Homo sapiens: one gene and its partners. The protein of the gene in region 3 purifies or fractionates together with the protein of the main gene of each other region. This does not show direct contact. Each region holds a gene or a part of one and is shown on either strand. Other genes may lie near its edges.

Region 1 (2,656 bases), on a different chromosome or scaffold from region 3:
GCCTCTGCCCTAGACCACCCCCTCGGTTCAGCAGGCCCAGGCTGGTCCCTCTCGGCACCCGTGCCACAGGAAGCCTGGAGCGTCCGGGACGAGGCGAGGCCCGTGCAGACCCGATGGCACCGCACACTCACGCCCCACACACGGATGGGACCTGGGCTCAGCCCAGCTACCAGCAGCTCACATGTGGGGTGTGGGGACCTCGCCGTCCCCATGTCCCAAGCAGCCAACGCTGGCACGGGTGAGCATCTGTGACTCTGGGAATACCCGTGCCAGGCAGGCCACGTTATCCCGAACCAACTTAACTGCCTATCAACAGGAAGCTCGTACATCACCGCGGCCCGTCTCTCCCTGTGACGTGCAGCCTCAGCCTCCTGCGTTCAAGTGATCCTTCCCCCCCGCAGTTTCCTAAAGTGTTGGGATTACATGCGTAAGCCACCATGCCCGGCCAAAGTAAGTACACTTAGCAACTTAAAAATACACATGGATCAAAGAAGACATCATACTTGAAATGAGAAAATATTTTGAACTGAATGGCAGTGAAAACACTACACATCAAAACTTAGGGAAATGTGGTTAGTGTGGTACGTTGAGGGAAACTTATAACCTCACGCGCTTGTTTCACAAAACAACAGCAGACAACAGAGATTTCCAACTCCAGCAATGACAGGCTAGGGTACCTAGATGAACCATCACACTGAAAACACATGCTGCAGTAAATACTGAATTTCTCCTTAAGAGCTGTGGGAATCTGACAAGCCAGGAAGGTAGAAACAAGGGAGAAGTGAGGGACCCAGGGGCCCAGGAAGGTCGTGAGCGCCAAGCACCCAGTGCTGCTGCCCCAGGGCGTGGCCAGTCCAGGCTTACGGGGCTCAGGTCCTAGGGGGCTGACCAGCAGGGTGGGGCAGACACCAGGCTCCAGCCCAGCCTCAGGTGAGAGTGAAGGGAGCACCTATCTGCAGCAAGCTGAAGCCCCCAAATCTAGGCCCTGAGGGTGAATCGGTACCAACCCCCTCGCCCTATCCTGAATGTGAGCGGGGAAAGTGCTCACCTGGCAAGATCTGGCCTGCGGCCCTTCAGGGGTCAGCATGACTTGTGTGGGTCAGAAAGCCTCAGCCCCAAACCCGGTCTCAGAGGCTTAAGAACCCTCTCCAGGAGGATGATCCATATAACAGCTCTCAAATAGGCCCCCAAATAATTCTTCACAAACACTTAACAGTTCAGGCCGGGCACAGAAGCTCATGCCTGTAATCCCAGCACTTTGGGCAGCCGAGGTGGGCACATCACTTGAGGTCAGGAATTTGAGACCAGCCTGGCCAACATGGTGAAGTCCTGTCTCTACTAAAAACAGAAAAATTAGGCCAGGCATGGTGGCTCATGCCTACAATCCCAGCACTTTGGGAGGCCGAGGTGGGCGGATTGCCTGAGGTCAGGAGTTCGAGACCAGCCTGGCCAACATGGTGAAACCCTGTCTCTACTAAAAATACAAACATTAGCCCACTGTGGTGGTAGGGGCCTGTAATCCCAGCTACTTGCGAGGCTGAGGCAGGAGAATTTCTTGAACCCAGGAGGTGGAGGTTGCAGTGAGCCAAGATTGCGCCATTGCACTGCAGCCTGAGCAATTGAGATTCCATCTCAAAAAAAAAAAAAAAAAAACCAAAAAACAAAACACACACACACACAGAAAAATTAGCTGGGTATGGTGGCAGGTGCCCATAATCCCAGCTACTTGGGAGGCTGAGGCAGGGGAATCGCATGAACCTGGGAGGCAGAGGTTGCAGTGAGCCGAGATCGCACCAACGCACTCCAGCCTGGGCGACAGAGCAAGACTCCGTCTCAAGAAAAAAATAAATAACAAAGAACAGAAGACAACATGACCCCACAAGTGAACCAGAGGGAAAGACAGGAACAGACCATTGGAGACTTTAGGGATGGTTAGTGATACCAGAGGCTAAAATAATCATGTGCCCTACCATGCACGCAGCCATGGTGGCCCGGGTCCTGCCACGCACGCAGCCATAGTGGGCTGGCTAAGCTGCAGGTTGTGCCTGAGCTCACGGACACGAGGAAGAAGGGCGACCGTGTCCTGGACAGCCCAGCTCGAGGCTGCTCTTCAGCCCCAGCCCCTGGTGTCCCGCAGCGGCTGCGGTGGCAGTGGTGGGGGAGCAGGCATGGCACCCGGAGCACTGGAGCCCAATGCAGGGTGACCCCTTCCCCCCAGCTCCAAATCCAGCATCCCTCCCCGGTGCCTAGCCCTCGCCAGGCTGCTGGCCCCATCGCTGGGAAGGAGTGGTTTGACCCCTCACCACTGAGAGGAGTAAGGTGTACTTCCTTGTCAAGCATGACTCCGAGCGGCACTTCTTCCACACCGCGCAGCTGCCTGTGCCTGGCAGGGGCCTCCTGCGGCCGGAACGTCCCCTGCATCCCCAACCACACCTGGCACAACACCATGGCTGAGGTGCGCTTCCAGCTGCACCAGCAGCCCACACGCCTCCTGAGCACCACTACCAGCTACCCCAAGCCCGTCTATACCAGCTACCCCAAGACCGTCTATACCAGCTACCCCAAGACCGTCTATACCAGCTACCCCAAGACCGTCTATACCAGCTACGCCAAGACCGTCTATACCAGCTACCCCAAGACCGTCTATACCACCACC
Region 2 (3,500 bases), on a different chromosome or scaffold from region 3:
GTATTAATATGAGCAAAATGCTTAAAAGGATGTTTGACACATAGCAAATGTGCAACATACTACACATATTAGTATTATTTCACGCAGGTTTATGTGATGTGCTCATCAAGGTAAGGGGCTTGGGTTCAATGACAGAGAAGAAAAATCCATGAACTGAACTCCAAATTTTTTTGACATTGAGAAATGCCTACTTAAGTTGGCTGTTTAAAACTTGCTACTTACTTGAAAAAGATTATACTTAGGGTAGTTAGGTCTATAGCCTACTTCACAAAAAGCTGTTTAAATAAAAGAATTTTAGGCCGGGCACAGTGGCTCACGCCTGTAATCCCAGCACTTTGGGAGGCCGAGGCAGGTGGATCTCCTGAGGTCAGAAGTTCCAGACCAGCCTGGCCAACATGGCGAAACTCCATCTCCACCAAAAACACAAAAATTAGCCAGGAGCAGTGGTGTGCACCTGTAATCCCAGCTACTCGGGTGGCTGAGGCAGGAGAATCACTTGAACCTGGGAGGTGGAGGTTGCCATGAGCCAAGATTGTGCCACTGCGCTCCAGCCTGGGCAGCAGAGTGAGACTCTGTCTCCAAAATAAATAAATAAATAAAAGAATTTTAAGTAGAACAAGGCCAGGCTCGGTGGCTCACGCCTGTAATCCCAGCACTTTGGGAGGCCAAGGTGGGTGGATAACGAGGTCAGGAGATCGAGACCATCCTGGCTAACATGGTGAAACCCCGTCTCTATTAAAAATACAAAAAATTAGCCAGGCATGGTGGCAGGTGCCTGTAGTCCCAGCTACTTGGGAGGCTGAGGCAGGAGAATGGCATGAACCCAGGAGAGGGAGGTTGCAGTGAGCCGAGATCGCACCACTGCACTCCAGCCTGGGCGACAGAGCGAGACTCCGTCTCAAAATAAAATAAAATAAAATAAAAATAAAAATAAAAATAAATAAATAAAGAGAATTTTAAGTAGAACATTAATAGTGGTATGGAACCTAAAACAAAGTTCTCCTGGAATCCATCTTTCTCACTGCTGTAAAGCAGGGAATAGTCCTACACATTGGCTGGAGGGCTAGAAATGTACAATAATGAAGGAACCAGAGTAGAAGTCTAGCCTTCCTCCCTCCTCCTTTAACCCCAGTAACTCCTGCTGTAGCAGAACTAGGCTGAAGTGAGACGGGTGATAGGGTTTCAGGTAACAGTTGTCCAGAGTGGAAAGGAGAAGACAAGTCCTTGAAGATGTCAGGTCAAAAGGGTGGCCTCTTCCAAATGGTCATTGCACATAGAAACCCATAACTTAGAGATAGCTTGGGCTTAAAAATTCTACATTCTATTTAAAAAATATCTTTAGGCTGGGCGTGTTGACTCATGCCTATAATTCCAGCACTTTGGGAGGCCGAGGCAGGCAGGTCGCTTGAGGTCAGGAGTTTGAGACCAGCTGGCCAACATGGCGAAACTCCGTCTCTACTAAAAATACAAAAAAATTAGCTGGGTATGGTGGCGTGAGCCTGTAATCCCAGCTACTCGGGAGGCTGAGGCAGGAGAATGGCTTGAACCTGGGAGGTAGAGGTTACAGTGAGCTGAGATCACGTCATTGCACTCCAGCCTGGGTGACAGAGCGAGACTCCATCTCAAAAGAAATAATACAAAAAAAATCTTTATGAGATATAATTTGCATACCATAAAATGTACCCATTCAAAGTGTACACTTCAGTGTTTACTTTGTTGAATGTATTACATATAAAATCAACCTTCTGGAGAGCTTAGTTTAAATTAGGCTTCACTTAGCTTACATTGGGGTTTCAAATTATCCCAAGCCTGTTCAATCACAATCACCAAATGCTACAACTTCAGCCTCATGGGAAATATGCCTGCCACTCTCCTCAAGTTCAAGCAACAGCTTCAAACTCTGGTGGAATCACTGAAAACACTGTGTTTGGCTTACTCAATTCCTGTGTTTTTCAGAGAAAAAAAGTTTTCCTCCCCCAAACCCCAGGAGTGAGTCACTTACAACAGTCATGTAATGTAGCATTCGACCATCAACCCGTCCTTCATCAAACTGGGTCTTATATTGAGGGAGGCCAATGTCATCCAACCATCCTAAAAGAGAGAGGCCAGTGTTGCTACCATGCCACAAAACATCTGTTCTTGTGATTAAAAAGAAAAAGCAACTATGTATATAATTATTTCATTTTGTTAGAATAAAAACTTCTTACTAGTGACCCAGTTGAAATCCAGCTTCCCATGATTGGTTTCTTCTTCAGATCCCAGGGCTTGGAGTGCTAGCTGGAGTTTCTTTCGATGAAGTGAATGCTTGATTCCAAGTTCCTGAAACAATAAACATTGACTTTATAATTCTATCTGTATAGGCTGGGTGCCACTGGCAAAGGATGCAAATTTCTCCAAAATGAAGCTAGCATTAAAGACCCAATTCAATACTGAATTACAATCCCAACTTGGGCTAGTAAAGTGTTGTTGAACAAAAGGTCCCTGAAAAGCCAAGACCACCACAATTATCTTAGGGGTGTGTTAGGCATTCCCTAGTGACTCATTTTCTTTGTAAGCTAGGAACTGTAGCATGCATAAAAAGAATTTGACTCTTATTTTGTACAAAATATTAAATAATTTGGAAGAAATGTTAAATAATTAGACACAAATTGTAGGGTGCTTTTTTTTTTTCTTTTGCAAAGTGAAGTTAATTGCATATCTTACACTGAGAAAAACAGGCCAATGATAAAGCCAAACAATGATTTCGAGAAATATGAACTGAATTATGCTTATGTAATTCTTTTTCATTAAAATGCCCAATGGCTTAAGTGTTCCATAAGGAATCATCAAGACCAGGTCCTCCCAAGACCACCAGAAAAAAGAAGCATGAAGCAATTGAAAACCCAAACTTTTGTTTACAGAGTTTTTACTGGCTTCACTCATGGCCCTTTCTGGACTATAAAACAACCCTACATTCATACTGTTTTCTTCTCAGTATCCATTGTGTGAACAAAACAGAGAAGCAGTCACCTTCTCTAGATCTTGTTGAGAAGCCTGCAAAAGCGTTTGGCCAGATGCAATCCAGTGCTTGCCAGAATTCAGGTACGAGCCCAAGCCCTGTTCCATCAGCCAATTGCAAACCTGCTCCTTGGTCCACTTGGCAAATGGCATATCCAAGTCACTACAGGAAAATGAGTAATTGCATGAAAAATAATCCAAAGCCAATCCTGTGGCTTATCATTAGTTTTAAACAACTATACATTCAATAGACATGGAAATTCCCTGGTGATACACATTTGACCATGAAAAGCTTAATTTTTAGTATACATTGGAGGAACAACTGGTTGAAAGTTATCTTCTAAGACCACTGTCTTCATTTCAAATGAAACCACAAAAGATTTAACGTGATAGAGCAAGAACAAGTGCTACAGAAAAAGACCAAATTGGACAAACACAAGTCACTGTATCAGTTTTAACCAATGTTGTTTGAAGATTGGATTCCCAAACAGGAAACTCAGTTG
Region 3 (3,500 bases):
TGTCATCTGTGACTTCAGAGATGGGTGATATATATTTAAAAACAGGTCCTTAGTTTGGAAAGGCATGCAGTTATGGGCAAGGAAAAATAAAATGGGGGCAAATTATAAAAAATAAAATAAAGTCTCTGAAGTGATAGTGAAGACAGATCGCACCCGACTGTACTTACTTCCCCCTTGCTTTGCGATTGCTTTACATGATGAAGGTTACATGTAGTGCCATTGCCCATCCATGCCCATATTCATGCCCATTCCACTCATAGGTCCTAGAAAGGAGATAAAATCCAAGAAGAGGCCGGAAAATCAGCAATAATTGATGGTGAAAAAATAGAAGGAAACTCAGATTCCTTTTCACTTATTGCCTTGGTTTAAAAAGAAAAAAGAAAAAGGATGTGTATGGGGCAGAGTATAATGGTACTGTGGTAAAATCTTTACTTTTTCAAAGAGGAATTTTTTCCCCCACCCAATGTAAAGAAAGCAGGCAGAGCAGGCAGCAGGCAAATGTTAAACCCACCATGACAGTGGGATAGTAGAGTGGATGGAGAGGCTGGTGGAGCAGGTGGCACTTCCCAGGGAAGCCCAGAGGCGGGATGAGCCAACCTACCTGCAGGCCGGATCCCCATGTGTTGCTGACCATCCAACACAAAGCTCCCCATGGGCTGACCCTCTGGACTATATGCTGCTCCTTGGCTCACTGAAGGATCAAGAAGAAAACCTGATTGTGGTCATTCGAGGACACAGAGGAGAAAGAAGAAAAGATATACCAAACAATCAGCAATTGTTCCCGCTGCAGCACTGAAACGTTATAGCAACAATGTGGTTGGCACTCTACAAATGGGGGTGTGGTTTGTCTGAGTGTCTTGATGACTGAGTGAAGGTGTGTGAGTAGCTTTAAAAATGTTCTGGAAGAAAGACTTCACTGGCCAGTTTCCCAGGGGGTTCGTCCTCTGCAGCCCTTGCTTTTTTACTTATCTCTTGATTAGGGGGACGAAGGCTGGAGAAGTTAGGGGTACCCCATATACAAATATTGCAATGTACCATTTGGTTGGGATTCTCTGAGGCTGCCATCTCTGGTGGCTTAATACAAAATGTTCATATTTTACACAAACATTTTAAACCTGAATACAATTTCACAAGGTTAAATAGACTCAATTAAAAGCTTGCCTTTTTATTCACACCAAGGAAATATAAACTTAGTAAATATAATATTTCCATTGTTTTATGTTCTTCTCCCTAGCCTCCAATAGTGGGAACATATTTTGGCGTTATTGGGGAAATTTTGCCAAAGGATGACTAATTTTCACAAATCCTTTAAAGCGAGGCCACAGGTAAAATCTCCATCAAGTTTAACACCGTTGTTAGTGGCAGCAGTCATCACCCCAAGGAAAACTGTTTTTCCCTATAAGCCTTATTGCAGGAGACCACAAACCCTCAGTAAACTGAGGAAATGTCTGTTTCAAAATAAAACGACTTGGAGTATACCAGGAGGGTTCTGATAGTACCATACAAAAACTGTTTTAGAGAAATTGAGAGAATTCTGAGAAAAGCTCACATGTATTTTAGCAGCATGGATGTGAAGCATTTTATACAAAGGTAATATTCTTTAATAAAAAATAATGGTGGCAATGCAGCAAGTCAGGCTTTAATAGGATATTATGAATAGCCAAAGCAAATGAATGGATACAATAAGTTTAACAGCAGATGCTACAGAAAGGAAAGCCTAGCATACACCAAGGAGCTGTGGGTAACAGAAAAATGAGAGTGTGCTAATGATTGGATGCAGACAAGCAAGGGGTAATGCCAGAGCTCACAAACACGCTGCTTGTGGCATTAATACCTGTGCCCAATTACCAATTCAGAAAGAAAATAAAAAGCAGTGTCAGTAGAGTCAGGGTGGGAAATCTCCAATTAGCACCACTTACTGAAGTTGCTTCCTTGAGTGGGATTCTGGGGACATTAAAAAAAAAAATCCAGAATGCCTGGTGGAAGCACTTATTTATCAGATGAGGAAACTACTGGAGTATAACTTGATGAGGATTTGTGCCTGTGGGACATAAATATAGATACTACTTGGAACTTGCCTGCTCGATTTGACTGGTCAATCATGGGCTGTACTATTCTTCTTCTGGCATTAATAAACCTGAAAGAGAACAGAGAAGTCCAGTCATCATACTCCGTTTCTGTACTCTGCGAACACCTTTGCATGAATGCTGAGGAGCACAAAATACAGTCAAATCTCTTCTGAAAATTATCTTTTCAATTTAAAGGTGATTTTCCCTTTCAGCGTTCAAAAATAGTTGACTGGGTAATCTCCGTCGTCACTGCGTAGTCAACTCCAAAACAACTTGCTAGAAGAGCTCAGGGACGGAATAAAGTTCTCCATGAGAAAGCTTCTATTAACTTCAAATTGTGCTTCTGCTTCTTGCACAAGTAGGAATCTGGTTAAAGTTCACAGGCTGGAAGACTTTCCCCCTTTCCCTAGACTCCCCGTGATAGGGAGACCCAGCTTCCCCTTGCAGCTGGTCATAAATGGAGACCAGGCTCTAGCACTCGGCTTTCACAAGGTATTGTTAGGTCAGCAAAGCCATCAATTAGGCTGTCTGAAGTTTTATCACCAACACAGCAGTAATAAGTGCTGGCCAGAAAGACTTCTGCTCTTCGGCAACTCCTGCAGTTTAAGCCTGTAAAGTTAGGGGTCATTCAGAGGTCAGTGCCAGCTGGGGGCAGCCTTTCCAGCCTAAGCTGGGACACCCAGGGCAGAGGATAAGGTAACTGCCAACCATAAACCCAGCCACCTTTCAACCCACTAGAAAGACAGAGCCTCAGGTACACATGTTTGATATTAGAGCTCAAGAAACGTTTGCAAATCAGGTGGTGGCTGAATCGCAGGAATGCAAAGGAGAAGCAGTTATTTCATCTAAGAAGCCTGGATCTAATTTTGTTGGAAATCCAAAAATAAGTGCCTACTTCATGTTACTTTAATGTTTAATAATGCCCATCAAATATTCATGTACAAACAGAGTAAGATGATAAGAAATCTCCTTTATTTCTCCAAATTTAATAAAAACAAAACAATTTTCTACCATTTGTGAGTTACCCTTGTCCCTGTGCACTTAACGACGTGTATTCCCCACACATTTGAGCTCATGCACACGATTCACTGACCACGCATTTCGGAGGAGCAGGGAGCATCCAGCTAGCTTCTCCCTAAAAATATACCCATTGATAACATCTGTCAATATTTCCAGTTTCAGATCTTAAGCACAGGGGGACTTCATGATTAATGAGTCCACCTGGGGCCACAGGCAGGAACTGAAAACTCACTCTTTGAAATTAGCCAGAAAAATTCAGTGTGTGCTGGCAGCTCTGTGTTCCGAGGAAGCTGAAGTCCCTTTGGAGGAGGACAGTCAGGCCCCACTCGGTCGGGCCTCCTGTGAGCACTCTGGTGGGAATACAATTAAGCTGAGGAATAATAGCTGGGAGAAAACCAAAGGAGTCTTTTG
Region 4 (3,500 bases), on a different chromosome or scaffold from region 3:
GCAGTGGAGCAACATGAGCAGATTTGTATTTTAGAGAAAAGCTCTTTGCTGCCATGTTGAGGGATGATATGAAGGGCAACAGAATAGAAAGGAGTCATGCAGCAATCCAGGGGAGAGGGTGGAGAGAAAACAATGGGACCAGTCAGGGGACATGTAGGAAGTATATCAACAAGCTTTAGTGGTTGCGGGGTATCGAGAAGGGAGGAATAGAAGAAGACACTCAGATTATTGACATTCAGTCGGAGGTGACTGTGGGACATAAGACTAGAGATCTAAGTAGGACGGTTGGGTATTTACATGGAACAAAGGAAGAAAATACAGGCCAGACATAAGGATTTGAGGGTCATCAGCGCAGAGGTGGATTAGGGCTGTGAGAAAGAAAAAGAACATCACAGCTAGTGTGAAGAGGATGGAGCTTTGAGAAACTCCAGCATTTGAGGGACTTACAGAGGAACAGCAGCTAGAGAGGTGGGAGGAAACAGGGCATTGATGTCCCAAGGGAAGGAGTATTTCAAGAAAGATGGAGACATCATTAGTGTCAGGTGTTCCAAGGAGCTTACATTAAAGGTTTGGCAATGAAGTCACCGGTGGCTCTGATGGAAGCTGGTCAGTGGGATCAGGAGCCAGAGGGCAATGCTTTCAGAAAGTCAGGCTTGAAGAGAAGCTGGGGAGTATACCTGTGATGGCAAGGGGTGTCCAGTATGGTTTTATTAGGTGAGGAAAGAGTTAAAGGGACTTAAATGCTGACGGTTGGAGTTAGTAGAGAGGAAGGATGAAGATGTGGGAGAGGGAGGTGCTGCCTGGGTGTGGTCCCTGAAAGAGGCAAGAGGAGATGGGATCCAGAGCTTAGGTGGGTGGATTGGTCCCATTGTCTCTTCTGTTGTGACAGGAGAGAAATAGGAAGGATTGGGCACCCAGGCAGGTAGGTTTGTATTTGGGGTATGAGGAAGTTTGCTCTAAAAAAGGGGAAGGGCCAGGGAACAGGTTTGAGGAGAGCAGAGGTTTGAAATAGCTTGGCCGCCAGGAAAACAGCCTAGCCAGAGACATCTTGGAATTTGTAGTGATACAGTCTGTGGTTTTTATTCTTGTAATATAGGAAACATGGTTGTAGGAGCAGAAAAAGTATACAGTTAGCATTATTCACTCATTCAACACATAACTGATTGGGCCTTGGTGGTTGCTAGGTGACATACCAGGTGCTGGAGATCAGTTGACAGAATGAACTTGGTCTCTGGGTGGCATTTTAAGCTGAAATCTAAAGAATAAGTTGGAGTTAGCCGGGCCTGGAAGGTGGCAATCTTTTTCCAAAATGAAAATGGTTGTTCTGGGTAGAGGAAAAAGCATGTGCAAAGTCTTGAACAGAAGGATCAGAAGAGAATGTGGCTCACAGTGAAGGGGGACAGGAAGGGGTGGGGACCAGATCTCACATGCCACATTAGCCTAGGGAATTGGGAACCCCTGAGGAGTTGTAAGATTTGAGAATGACATAAGCTTTGCATTTTTTAAAAAGCCTGAGCATTAAACAAATGTCAGGTGCTTGCATGGTTGTGTACTTGATTCATTGATAAAATATGAAACAAAATGTATGATTCTTTCTTGGAGAAACTATAGTCTTTTTGGATCATGGTTTAAGTATCCTTAACAAGCAACAGATCACCACTTTAAAGGTAACATAGTTTGACCAAGCTCAAGGAATGTCATGGGGACTGATCTGAGATGGTGTTTATGGGTTCCTGTATTGCACGTGTTGGAGGAGCTAAAGAGGTGGTTCCGACCAGGGGGAGGGTGGCAGCTCTGGCTCTTCTGAAAAGGCCTACCTCCCATGGGTGTGTGAAAGGAGAAATATCTTCTTGACCCAGCTGGAAACCTCCCTGCAATCCTGCCTTCTTTTCCAGAATGACCAGAGCTCTCATGGACTCGCTTGGGCCTGAGTGGCGCCTGAAGCTGCCCTCAATCCCCTTGGTGCCTGTTTCAGCTCAGAAGAGGTGGAATTCCTTGCCTTCGGAGAACCACAAAGAGATGGCTAAAAGCAAATCCAAAGAAACCACAGCTACAAAGAACAGAGGTGAGCTGTGACTCCCTGCCCAGAGTCTTGCAATCTCCCACTATCCATTTTCTTTAGAGTAGTCCTGCAAAAATTGGCATTGTTTAGCTGAGTTATAAAAATAATCTTAGGAACAAAGTATAAAACAAAATACAAGTCTTCACCTCTTAGAGACTGTTTTCTCAGCTGTATAGTGAGGGTGATGATAAAGTCTTCCTCACAACCATGAGGACTGAATGACATAAGACATGTAAAACTCCCAGCCTGGCACATAGGCATGCAGTGTGAGTTCCCTTCTCTTTCCTCTGGTAGCACTTGGGATGTAGTACTTAGGATGTTTTTGGTTGCAAAAACAGAAAGCTCAACATGGTAAACATAGTATAGGGAATTTATTGGCTCATAAAACTGAAAAATCCGAGAGAATTCAGGCAAGGTTTGCTCCAGCAGCTCAGTATATTAACAGACTAACTCCATTTTTCTGTACTTATCACAGCTTTATTTTCTGTTGTGCGTCAGCTTTGTCTTTGGCAAGCTTCCCTCCTAGTAGCAAAATAGCTATAGCAGTTCCCGGCCTCACATCCATACCCCATGCCTCATGACCCAGAGAAAGAAAGTCTTTCTCTGATAGCTCACTAGGAAAAGATAGGATTTTTTTCCCCCAAAAAACTCTAGCTCACATATTTTCTCAATCATTTTCTCAATCTATTCTGGTCTTCATGGTCACAGGCCATTCCCTGAAGTACACACCATAACCGGCGGATGAGATTTTGTGATTAGGTCACCCTGAGGCACCTGCCCCACCTCCAGAACTAGAGGGTGATGCTTCCCAGGAGCATGTACACTGTGTGAATCCCTGGAGAAGCATGAAGAAGAGAAAGGAGATCCAAGCAGCCAAAAACAGGAGATTCCTCACCTCAACTGTATGAAATGAAGAGGCCATTTGTCAGGCACTAGGAAGCTCTTTTAATGCTCCAGGGGAATGGTCCCAGCCCAGCAAGCTAGGGATTCAGGCTAGAGGTGCAGAAGGGATCAGAGATGGAGCCCTGCCATGTGTAAGTGACCTATAGGTGTTAGGGGAGGACAAGAGTTACTCACCTTCTACAGGAGAATGCCTCTCTGGTCATGGGTAGCATTCACTCTGGTTTGTGGGAGCCTGGTAAGTGTTCCCCACTCTTCTCTAGGATGAAAATGTGCGGTGCTAATGAACCTGATGGCATCAGTGCCATTGATTTCATTCTTTCAATCAGTGCACCTACCATTGATTTCATTCTTTAAATCAGTGCACCTACCATTGATTTCATTCTTTCAGGGTCACTGAGCCATGTGTTCCAAGCCATGTGTATGCTAAGCAGTGTGACACAGAGGACAGTCTTGGCCCTCAGGGAACTCTCCCTCAGTTGAGGGACTGAGACATGTAAACAGTGTCTTAAAACACAAGGAGGAGGAACATGTGCTT
Region 5 (3,500 bases), on a different chromosome or scaffold from region 3:
CAACTAAACACCTTTACCCAGAGATTGTTTAAAATATGAAAATTTGTCATTAACTACTTGGTAAGTGAAATTAAAAACCCAGTAAGGCAGCTTAAGCTGAATGAGGTTTTATGTCTAATTGGCATGTGACGTAAATTATATACATTATGTTTAGGATAGTTAAAAAGGCTTACCGTGGCTAGTTTTTATAAGGAAATAATTTAAGACATTCTAGAATTCTGCAAATTAAATTATATATGTATGCATGTATATACTTTTTGAGACAGAGTCTCTCTCTGTCACACAGACTGGAGTGCAGTGGTACGATCATGGCTTACTACAGCCTTGACTTCCCAGGCTCAAGCAATCCTCACATCTCAGCCTCTTAAGTATCTGGGACTATAGGTGCATGCCACCGTGCCGATGAAACTGTGTATTTAAATGGAACATGGTAGGCAGTTAAGTACTTGAGGAAATTGAAATTTGTCAACAAGGGATCTTAGTTATCTGTATTACGTATTAAAAGGGCTCTAGGGAAGCGGTTGAGAGGTTAAAAAAAAAAAAAAAACACCCTGAAAAATGTGATCTCCTTGCCGTGTGGTCTAAAAAACAAAAAACTTAGTAATTAAAAATTTTAAACTTAGATATTAGTTTTCATGGTTTGTGTTAACCTTACTATGGGAATTAAAATTTATGAACAGGAGATTTCATTTGGTTCATTAATTATTGAATATATCACCAGGGAAACTCTTTGGGGGGAAAAAAATGAAAAAACCACAGACTCCTCCTGGCTGTAAGACATAAAGAAAATAGAGATAGGTTAGTATGTAAATTTCATTCATGTTTATGTGTTGACTCACCTTTTAATGCAAAAAAATCTTTGCAAAGGTTTTAGAAATGATGAGACAGATTATGAGAGGATGCTGAAGAATCGGGGGGATTGTGTGTTCCCTTAAGGCATTGAAGAGCAGTCTTGGTATATGTGATAGAGAGTGTTGTAGGATAAAAACGTGAATAGGAAAATCAGCAGTAGAACAAAACTAAATGGGACTAAATGTAACTAAAAATGAATATTCTATTCGAACTGCATGGTAGAGATAAGACCCTTTGAATGATAGATTCCGAGAACATTAGTGGTGGGGTAGAGAATTGGGGATGGGATAGAATCCCAAATAACTTCAGTTATTAATTAGCTGCTAATCTAAACCTGAGACAGTAATTGTATAGTATTTTTGTAAATGAAGTGTCATCCTGAGGTAGCAGAGATGGATATCTGCTCATCTCAGAACAGTATCACCATAAGTACACTTGCTTGTTAACTAAAACCTCTAAAATTTTATCTTATAGGTAGGCATTATGGCTTTGTTAAGAAAAATGAAATCTACAGTGAAAGACACTGGATGCTGTATTCTATTTCTACTTATTGGTAACTTTAAGATATTTTACCTGTTTTTTTGAGACGTCTCACTCAGTCACCCAGGCTGGAGTACAGTGGTGAGATCTCGGCTCACTGCAACCTCTTTCTCCCAGGCTCAAAAGATTCTCATGCCTCAGCCTCGCAAGTAGCTGGCATTACAGGCATGCACCACCACACCTGGCTAATTTTTGTATTTTTAGTAGAGATGGGGTTTCACCATGTTGGCCAGGCTGGTCTCGAACTCCTGACCTCAGGTGATCCAACTGCCTCAGCCTCTCAAAGTGCTGGGATTACAGGCATGAGCCACTGTGCCCAGCCATAAGATATTTTACTTTTATTAAAGCTGTGAACATAAGAAATTGTAGCTACTTTTCCGTGACTATGGTAATTGCACATGTTAACATTTTGTCCTATGAAGCGGAGTTAGCAAATAAGCTAGATGGTAATGCTTGTGAGGCACTCATAAACATTTGTTGGATGAAATTCTGATATCCCCAGTTGTCATATTCTAACCCTTTAATGGTGGGATTGATTTTTAAAATTTTTGTATGTAACCAAAAATAATATATAACCAAGTCTGGTAAATTTAAAGGGTTGTTTCTGGTAAAACAAAAGCAAGTTATGTGACTTTAAGTGATACAAAACTGCCGGGTATGGTGGATCACACCTTTCATCCCAGCTACTCAGGAGGCTGAGATGGGAAGACAGTCTGAGCTCAGGATGTCAAGACAGGCCTAGGCAACATAGTAAGGACCCCACCTCTAAAATTTTTTTTTTTTAATTAGCTTGGCATGGTGGTGCATACCTGTAGTTCCAGCAACTTGGTAGGCTGAGGTCGGAGATCGTTTGAGCCACTGGGTTCAAGGCTGCAGTGGTGAGCAAGGATGGCAGTGCCACTGTGCTTTAACCTGGGCGACAGAACAAGACCCCATCTCTTAAAAAAAAAAGTGACATAGGACTGTGGCTTGGTAACACAGAGATAACTACATGTGGTCGTATAAAAAAAAATCCAAGAGATAATAATGCTTGAGTGGGTCATGTAAGAAAAGACAGGCTAAGTGTATGATTTTAAATTTACATAATCATAATTTATGTTTCTAATGTTTAGTTCACAAAATCTTAGAGTACTAAAACCAAGAGGCTCCTCTTAGAGAAGGTAGTTTTAGGACTAAGTAAAAGGAAATGCCCTGCTATTTTACAGAGCTGACGTAAATTGACAGAACTTGTTACTTTTAAGAAGTAGTACAGGTGAAAATATAAGCATACTAAAAATGGGTTCAATGAATTCATGGACAATAGTTTCAAAACGTATTGTGTAAAATTTAAGAGAAATCCTTAGTATGTTGAGTTCAGCCACATTCTCATAAACATTTGGTTTCAATGACGTAATACTTTAAATACAAGTTCTGTCATAGCATTTACACTGTAATATGATTATAGTGATGAGCCCCATAACGATATTTCAGTCGGCCGGGCTTGGTGGCTCACGCCTGTAATCCCAGCACTTTGGGAGGCCGAGACATGTGGATCACCTGAGGTCAGGAGTTTGAGATCAGCCTGACCAACATGGTGAAACCCTGTCTTTACTAAAATACAAAAATTAGCCAGGCGTGGTGGCGGGCACCTGTAATCTCAGCTACTCGGAAGGCTGAGGCAGGAGAATTGCTTGAACCCAGGAGGCGGAGTTTGCAGTGAGCCGAGATCGTGTGCCACTGCACTCCAGCCTGGGCAACAAGAGTGAAACTCCGTCTCAAAAAAATGATGTTTCAGTCAGTGAGTTGACTGTATATAGGGTGATGGTCCCAATTTTTTTTTTTTTTTTTGAGATGGAGTCTCACTCTATCACCCAGTCTGGAGTGCAGTAGTGTGATTTTGGCTCACTGCAACCTCTGCCTCCCGGGTTCAAACGATTCTCCTGCCTCAGTCTCCCAAGTAGCTGGGATTACAGGCGCCGGCCACCCAGCCTGGCTAATTTTTGTTTGTTTGTTTGTTTTTGTATTTTTAGTAAACACAGGGTTTCACCATGTTGGCCAGGCTGGTCTTGAACTCCTGACCTCAGGTGGTCCACCTGCCTTGGCCTCCAAAATTGCTAGAATTACAGGCA
Region 6 (3,500 bases), on a different chromosome or scaffold from region 3:
ATAAATTATGAATTTTAATAAACATCACATCCTGCTTAACGACTGTGGTGAAATAAACTCATTCCTACTTAAAGACTCAATTTCTCCTTCATGCCAGACAAATGGTAACTTGTTAGAGCAATTTAAACAGATACCGATAAAGGAAGCTTTTGATTAAGGTCATGAATCTGGGCTGACAGGAAAGCGATGGTGTTTCAGGGCAAATAGCCTATTTAGGAAAGAATTAAACCTGGTGGAGAGGAAGGCGCCTTTAATGTGATACTGGTGAAGGAGCCTGGCAACTTCCAAAGCAACTGGCTGCAGCAGGGCTAGGAGCCTACACCAGATGCACAGCTAAGGAGAGAAGGAATTTTCTTAGGGTCTAGACCATAGTTTTCCCGTGAAAAACAACCAAAGAGAACAAAATGACCTCATCTGCCTCTCCTTACTTCAAAAAGTTATTTGACAGCAAATTTGTAAGAATGTATTTACACTTGAAAATACCTTCAAACTCCTTTGAAAATACTCAAAAGATCACGATGCAACAGTGGCCATGACAACAACATCCCTTTTCTTCTTTACTCTGGCCAGATGTCAGTCTTTGACCTGGCAATGCAGCTACCATGTGAATAATGTAAAATAAACACACTGATTAAACTAAATAGATCTAATAATGAGTCATTACATTGATTTAGCAGAGGAGGAAAAAATAAGGTCCACACAGACAGAAATAGTAACTACTGTTTTGTTTTTCTAATTGTCCTCCCTAAAGAGCATTTTTCAATCATCTACCTGAACATTATGTTCAGGTAGAAGTGGCTGCAGTAAATGGAAACACCTCTGCTTTAATAGAATGATTTGAATAGGAAAGCTGCATATACATTTCAGGGGATATGTAGACAGCAAACCACCAGGGTATACTGTCCGGGGGACACCTAAGAGAATTAGATACAGAACATAGGTGATATAAATGCTAAGTACTTAATGAAATGATCTTCTGCAGACTGGAGGAGACAGGCAAAATGAAAACTGTGACGCATTTTAAGCTTCTTGGAAAAGATACTATTGTTGCCTTTTATCAGTTCTATTCAGTAACTATTTACTGAGCTTTTGCTCCAGGCTAGGCATGGTGGGAAAGAAGGCACAGGGAGCAGTCTTGCTGATAAAGATACTGCCCTCAGTTTCTGTGTCAATGCAGAGCTGCCCCTTCCTAAAATAAATTAACCTAGGGAAATCTAGAAATGTTGGTTTGCCTCTGCCTCCCATCTCATTTTCTGCAAATGAAAGGACGAAGTGGCCTCTTGCCAGACACATACAAGGAACTGGACACCTCTGGATTTCCATTCTTTTTTTTTTCTTTTTGAGATAGGGTCTTGTTCTGATGCCCAGGCTGGAGTGCAGTGGCATAATCTTGGCTCAGTGCAACCTCTACCTCCTAGGCTCAAGTGATCCTCCCACCTCAGTCTCCCGAGTAGCTGGGTCTACAGGTGCATGCCACCATGCCCAGCTAATATCTGTATTTTTTGCAGAGGTGGGTTTTCACCATGTTCCCCAGGCTGGTCTCAAACTCCTGGGCTCAAGCAATCCGCCCACCTTGACCTCCGAAAGTATTAGAATTACAGGCATAAGCCGCCATGCCCAGCCTGGATTTCCATTCTACACACACAACAGCAATAGTCAATCCTGACTGAGTCATATAGTACCACTTCCAGAGAAGGGGGAAGAGTAATCTCAATTCAGTCACAAAAGCTTGAAATTTAAATCAGAACGGTTTCCTTGAAGGATCCTTACCCTTATACACTTACCTTCTTTTACCTGGGACTTGTCCTTTCCTTACTTCAAAGAGATGTTACTTGAGAGCAAATGTCCCCCAAGATCCACTTAGAACCAGATATCACTTGTTCCCCAGACATACTCTCTCTTTTTCCCTTACAAGCCATCTCTCCCAATACCCCTACCCAAGGAGATTCTATCTTCACCAAGCTGCTCAAATTCCAGGTGAGAGGTAAAATTCCCTTTCCTCAAGAATCTCCAGAACCATCGCGTGCAGTAAGTTTTTGCCTTCTTACTCAGGAACTTCAATTCCTACCTACCCTGGAATCTACTGTGACTTTGAAGCAGAGGTGTCCAATCTTTTGGCGTCCTTGGGCCACACTGGAAGAATTGTCTTGGGCCACACATAAAATACACTAACAACAGCTGATGAGCTTTTTTTTTTTTTTTTTGAGACGGACTCTTGCTCCGTGTAGTGCAGTGGCACAATCTCGGCTCACTGCAAGCTCTGCCTCCCGGGTTCACGCCATTCTCCTGCCTCAGCCTCCCGAGTAGCTGGGAGTACAGGCGCCTGCCACCACGCCCGGCTACTTTTTTCTGTTTTTTAGTAGAGATGGGGTTTCACTGTGTTAGCCAGGATGGTCTCGATCTCCTGACCTCGTGATCCGCCCACCTTAGCCTCCCAAAGTGCCGGGATTACAACTGTGAGCCACCGCGCCTGGCCAGCTGATGAGCTTTAAAAAAAAAAAAAAAATCCCCCAAAAATCTCATAATGTTTTAAGAAAGTTTACAAATTTATGTTGGGTCCCATTCAAAGCAATCCTGGGCCACAGGTTGGACAAGCTTGCTTTAAAGGCGTGAACACCTCCACATACAAAGCTGCAACTGACTCTCTTATCTAGCCTGGACTACAGCGACACCGATGCTCCATTCGCTGTACCACCTGTCAAGCTTCTCTCTGGACCAGCTTCTCAGTAGCAGCTGATGAGTAACTGCCCTTCAATAAGCTTATCACTTGTGAATAAACTGTATTTCCTACTACCTTCAAAGGGTGCTTCACACCCTTTCAGTCACCAATCTGTTATGAAATTTCATTCCAGTTTCCCAGTGATCCAACAGAGGATCCAATATGCAAGCCTGCTGGTGTGCTGGGTTGAATATGGTATCCTCCCCAAAGCCTGTAAATGTGACCTAATTTGGAAATAGGGTCTTTCCAGATTACATCAAATGTAATACTAGATTACAGTGGGCCCTATCCAATGACCGATGTCCTTATAAGAAGAGGGAAATTTGGATACAGACACACACAGAGGAAAGGTAGAGGCAGAGATTGGAGTTATGCTACCACAAGCCAAGGAACACCAAGGAATGCTAGCAGCCAGCAGAAGCTAGAAGTGGTAAGGAAGGTCTTCCCAAGAGCCTTTGAGGGAACATGGCCCCACCAACACTTTGATTTTGGACTACTAGCCTCCAGAGCTGTGAGAGAATAAATGTCTGTTGTTTTGGGTCACCCAGTTTGTAGTAATTTGTTACAGTAGCCCTAAGAAACTAATACAGCTGGCAAGTCAAGGTAAATGCAAATTTACCTTGAGGTATTTGAGGCAAGCTCCCAGACATTTTACCATTCCTCAGAAAGCATCTATGGAAACTGTGAATAACCCTAAAAGACAGGCAAAGCAAAATGCTAGTTTCAACCAGATTAGTGAAATCTTCGACGCTTAATGCAAACAGTGAACGCAGCAATGCTC
Region 7 (3,500 bases), on a different chromosome or scaffold from region 3:
AGTGTGTCAGATATATCTCAATACCGTGTTGAAGTAAGATGCTTTGGTGTTTGCTAGTATTTAGAGTGACCCTTGAGGAACATAAAAATTGGAAGTTAAATCAGAATTCTGTTTTATTTCATTCTTATGATGTATTTTAAGTTGCATTGACCTTTTTGTTTAGATTTTTTAAAACAGATATTACATATAAAGTATCTTGTTAGTCTGTGGTCTATTTTCATAAAGAATGATTTAAAATCATAACTACTATCCATTTATCCTTGCCAGTCTTATTTCACTTATAATAGAATAATGGCTTTTACTTTGTACTATAGAATCTTCTTGAAATTAAGCCTTTGCTAGTTTCAGTGAGCAATTTAGTTTTTAGTTTAACTAAAGTTATTGCCAGTTCTAGTTAAATAATGGTTCTTTTTTAGTTTTTGCCCTCTTTTACGATATTTGCTCTTGATTGGAATTTATCTGGTTGACCTGTGCTTATAATAGAAAATATTTAAGCAGGGAAGTAATTTTTAAATTGCTCTTATTTTCAGTTTTCTACCTATGTCAAGCATGCTTAATCAAATTTAAACAGTTTTGTTTCAGTAAGTGGTTTTAGTGGATTGAATAGTTTGACAGTTCCTATAGACTAGAATTGTGCTGTTGCTACAATCAGTGTCCATAGTTTTGAAGCTCCCATACAGATAGCCTGCTGTTTAAATGCTGCTATGTTCAGCATTTAAATAACCATAATAGAGTGTCAAATAGGGGAAAGTTTATTTTAAGAGAATATTATTTAAGCTGTTAAGAATTTGTTTTAATGTCATGTTTATGTAGTTCAACATGGCTCCGTATGAAACAGATTTAGGTATCTTATGAGTCAAAACACCATTTCTTCTATTCAAAAAAAACCTTGGTTGGCTTTATTCTCTCATTAAAATAGTCATGAAGTTTTAAGAGTACTTTGTGTTTGTCGTTCTCTGCTAGCTGACCTCAGGTTATTTGATTTTCTTTTGGAAAATGTATACTAAGAGGTTGTATGTGTTTGTATGTGTTATAAATCTTTTTCCTTTTTGCCAATTGTAAGCACTTGACTACCTTTGTCCTGGATCGGAAAGATGCTATGATCACTGTTGATGATGGAATAAGGAAATTGAAATTGCTTGATGCCAAGGGCAAAGTGTGGACTCAAGATATGATTCTTCAAGTGGATGACAGAGCTGTGAGCCTGATTGATTTAGAATCAAAGGCAAGTGTGTAAAATTTATACTATTTTATTTTCAAGAAACTCCACAAATATTAATGTTTACAATCATTTCAGATTGTTTGAAAATGGATGGAAGTTTGACAAAATAAAATGTTCACTTTATTTATAGAATGAACTGGAGAATTTTCCTTTAAACACAATCCAGCACTGCCAAGCTGTGATGCATTCATGCAGCTATGATTCAGTTCTTGCACTGGTGTGCAAAGAGCCAACCCAGAACAAGCCAGATCTTCATCTCTTCCAGTGTGATGAGGTTAAGGTAAAAGAATGGTGAAATTTTTGTTTCTTCTTTAAGCAGATTGTCTGGGAGCTTTTGAATTACCTATTTTGATAATATATCTGCATATTAGTTACTAGATTTTTAGTTTCTGAGCATCTCGTAAGGAAAACAAATACCTTAGTATCTTCTCTAGGATTTCCATGGCAAGTAAATAAAGAAATTAGGGTGATGTTAATCAAATCAGTAGTTCACACTTGTAATCCCAGTGCTTTGGGAGGCCAAGGCTGTAAGATGGCTTGAGGCCAGGGGTTTGGGCCCAGCCTGGACAACATGGCAAGACCCAGTCTCTACTAAAAAGGTTTTAAAAATTAGCTAGATGTGGTTGTACACGCTTGTAGTCTCAGCTACTCAGTTGGCTAAGGGAGGAAGATCTCTTGAGCCAGGAGTTGGAGATTACAGTGAGCTATAATCACCCCTCTGCACTCCAGCCTGGGCAACAGATTGAGATTGTGTCTCTTAAAAATAAGATGCATTCTGTTTATTTTTTTAAAGTGTAGATAATATATTAAATTCACATCAAATGCCTTAAACTTATAATTAAAAATTGATTGTTCAGAAATCTTGCTTTGTGGACAGTAAATAATCATGTAATTTGAATTTATTCTGCACTAATGACATAGCATGGATTACTGCAATGAAGTACTTAGACATTTCCCACGATATTGATTTAAAGTTCACCATTTAATTATGTGACTTGATTCATTGCTCAGGATTTGTAATTCCCAGATGATATGTGAAAATAGTTGAGCCAGTAATAACAGGCTATATCCTGAAAGTTTCTATTTCAAAGTACAGTGTAATTTCAAATGATTATAATTTGTGATGCTTTATTGGACCTTAGAAGTTATCTTCAACCTTGAATGTGTTTATTTCCTCAGTTGTTTTCTTTAAAAGAGAAATCATTTTGTGTTAATTGGTACTTTGCCAAAGCAGTGATTTAACATTTTGATGATATATTATAAAATATCCATGTAATTTTATTTTATAAAGAAACTCTAGGAGATTAGCACAGTTACTTGATCTTTTCTGTGTTTTTTGACATTTAAAGATGATAGATAAAGTAAGATTGACTGTAAACTGTATTTTATAATTTTCTTCTAATTTCAATTTACGTCATGGATGACTTTCTAAAAACCTTCTTCTAAAAGAACTGGCATTTAGGTAATTTGTGTAAGTGATATTCATCAGATTTTTGTATAGTGCCTTTTGAAAGTCATAGTATATTATAATTTTTGTAAGGTTAGATATATTCAGTCAATAAATATTAAAGGGAATATTTTGCTTTAAAAATATAGTGAAATTTAATTCAAACATTTTTATAAACCAGAGGCCTAAGTTGAAAAACATTTCAAATTTGATGTTTGTATCTGTGTTCTAAAAAGCCCCCCCCGGGAGCTAAAAGTTACTATGCTGTGAAAAGTTTCTGGATTTTAGGTTTGGGAACAAATGGCTTGCTTTACTTGATATGGAATGGTAATGATAATGGATTCAAAATGTATTTACTGAATATAGTTTTGTCCTAACCCCAAAAGCTCACATACCACGAAGCACTGTATGCATTTACTCATTAGTTTCATACTCTGCATATGAGACATTTTTCGCTTGGCTGGTTAAAAATATAGAGGCAATGAAAAACGCAGTTTCTTTTATATGGCTCATTGTGCAATATTGCTTTTGATTTTTAAAGTTTCTTTATTATAGGACTTCATGCAATGCTCCTGCCCACCTTTGCAGTAAAATTTTTCTTAGAAATATAATAGCCCCAGTATAAGAAGTTGAAGATTCCTAGGCATCTTCAGTTTTCATTTTGGGTTTTTTTAAATAATTATTTTTAATTAAATATCTTTTCATCTTCAGTTTTAGTATCCTATGTAACAGAAAGCCTTTGACACGATATTTGTAATGTCTTATTGAAACTAAATGCTCTTAGGAAGTCACACTGGACTGGGATGCATTGGCCTCTCATTTAACTAGCAA

What was found.
Region 1: the proteins of MEIS2 (region 3) and LRPAP1 purify together in Homo sapiens (affinity purification with mass spectrometry; one large-scale study listed by BioGRID and IntAct). This does not show direct contact.
Region 2: the proteins of MEIS2 (region 3) and PPFIBP1 purify together in Homo sapiens (affinity purification with mass spectrometry; one large-scale study listed by BioGRID and IntAct). This does not show direct contact.
Region 4: the proteins of MEIS2 (region 3) and TOMM34 purify together in Homo sapiens (affinity purification with mass spectrometry; one large-scale study listed by BioGRID and IntAct). This does not show direct contact.
Region 5: the proteins of MEIS2 (region 3) and GNB4 purify together in Homo sapiens (affinity purification with mass spectrometry, with the first as the bait; one large-scale study listed by BioGRID). This does not show direct contact.
Region 6: the proteins of MEIS2 (region 3) and CMTR1 purify together in Homo sapiens (affinity purification with mass spectrometry; one large-scale study listed by BioGRID and IntAct). This does not show direct contact.
Region 7: the proteins of MEIS2 (region 3) and EPS8 purify together in Homo sapiens (affinity purification with mass spectrometry; one large-scale study listed by BioGRID and IntAct). This does not show direct contact.

Annotation. Positions count from the first base shown.
Region 1 is NC_000004.12:3,503,112-3,505,767, forward strand, and holds the end of LRPAP1 (alpha-2-macroglobulin receptor-associated protein precursor), read right to left. Parts: 3' UTR 501-2,656; downstream 1-500. UniProt on the Homo sapiens protein: Molecular chaperone for LDL receptor-related proteins that may regulate their ligand binding activity along the secretory pathway.
Region 2 is NC_000012.12:27,681,206-27,684,705, reverse strand, and holds part of PPFIBP1 (liprin-beta-1), read right to left. Parts: intron 3,161-3,500; coding exon 3,010-3,160; intron 2,320-3,009; coding exon 2,208-2,319; intron 2,092-2,207; coding exon 2,003-2,091; intron 1-2,002. UniProt on the Homo sapiens protein: May regulate the disassembly of focal adhesions. Did not bind receptor-like tyrosine phosphatases type 2A.
Region 3 is NC_000015.10:36,894,550-36,898,049, forward strand, and holds part of MEIS2 (homeobox protein Meis2), read right to left. Parts: intron 2,138-3,500; coding exon 2,079-2,137; intron 713-2,078; coding exon 602-712; intron 264-601; coding exon of another isoform or gene 205-263; exon of another isoform or gene 168-204; intron 1-167. UniProt on the Homo sapiens protein: Involved in transcriptional regulation. Binds to HOX or PBX proteins to form dimers, or to a DNA-bound dimer of PBX and HOX proteins and thought to have a role in stabilization of the homeoprotein-DNA complex.
Region 4 is NC_000020.11:44,950,398-44,953,897, reverse strand, and holds part of TOMM34 (mitochondrial import receptor subunit TOM34), read left to right. Parts: intron 1-1,895; coding exon 1,896-2,065; intron 2,066-3,500. UniProt on the Homo sapiens protein: Plays a role in the import of cytosolically synthesized preproteins into mitochondria. Binds the mature portion of precursor proteins. Interacts with cellular components, and possesses weak ATPase activity.
Region 5 is NC_000003.12:179,441,471-179,444,970, reverse strand, and holds part of GNB4 (guanine nucleotide-binding protein subunit beta-4), read left to right. Parts: intron 1-3,500. UniProt on the Homo sapiens protein: Guanine nucleotide-binding proteins (G proteins) are involved as a modulator or transducer in various transmembrane signaling systems.
Region 6 is NC_000006.12:37,436,221-37,439,720, reverse strand, and holds part of CMTR1 (cap-specific mRNA (nucleoside-2'-O-)-methyltransferase 1), read right to left. Parts: intron 1-3,500. UniProt on the Homo sapiens protein: S-adenosyl-L-methionine-dependent methyltransferase that mediates mRNA cap1 2'-O-ribose methylation to the 5'-cap structure of mRNAs.
Region 7 is NC_000012.12:15,667,389-15,670,888, reverse strand, and holds part of EPS8 (epidermal growth factor receptor kinase substrate 8), read left to right. Parts: coding exon 1-33; intron 34-1,063; coding exon 1,064-1,225; exon of another isoform or gene 1,226-1,229; intron 1,230-1,352; coding exon 1,353-1,502; intron 1,503-3,500. UniProt on the Homo sapiens protein: Signaling adapter that controls various cellular protrusions by regulating actin cytoskeleton dynamics and architecture. Depending on its association with other signal transducers, can regulate different processes.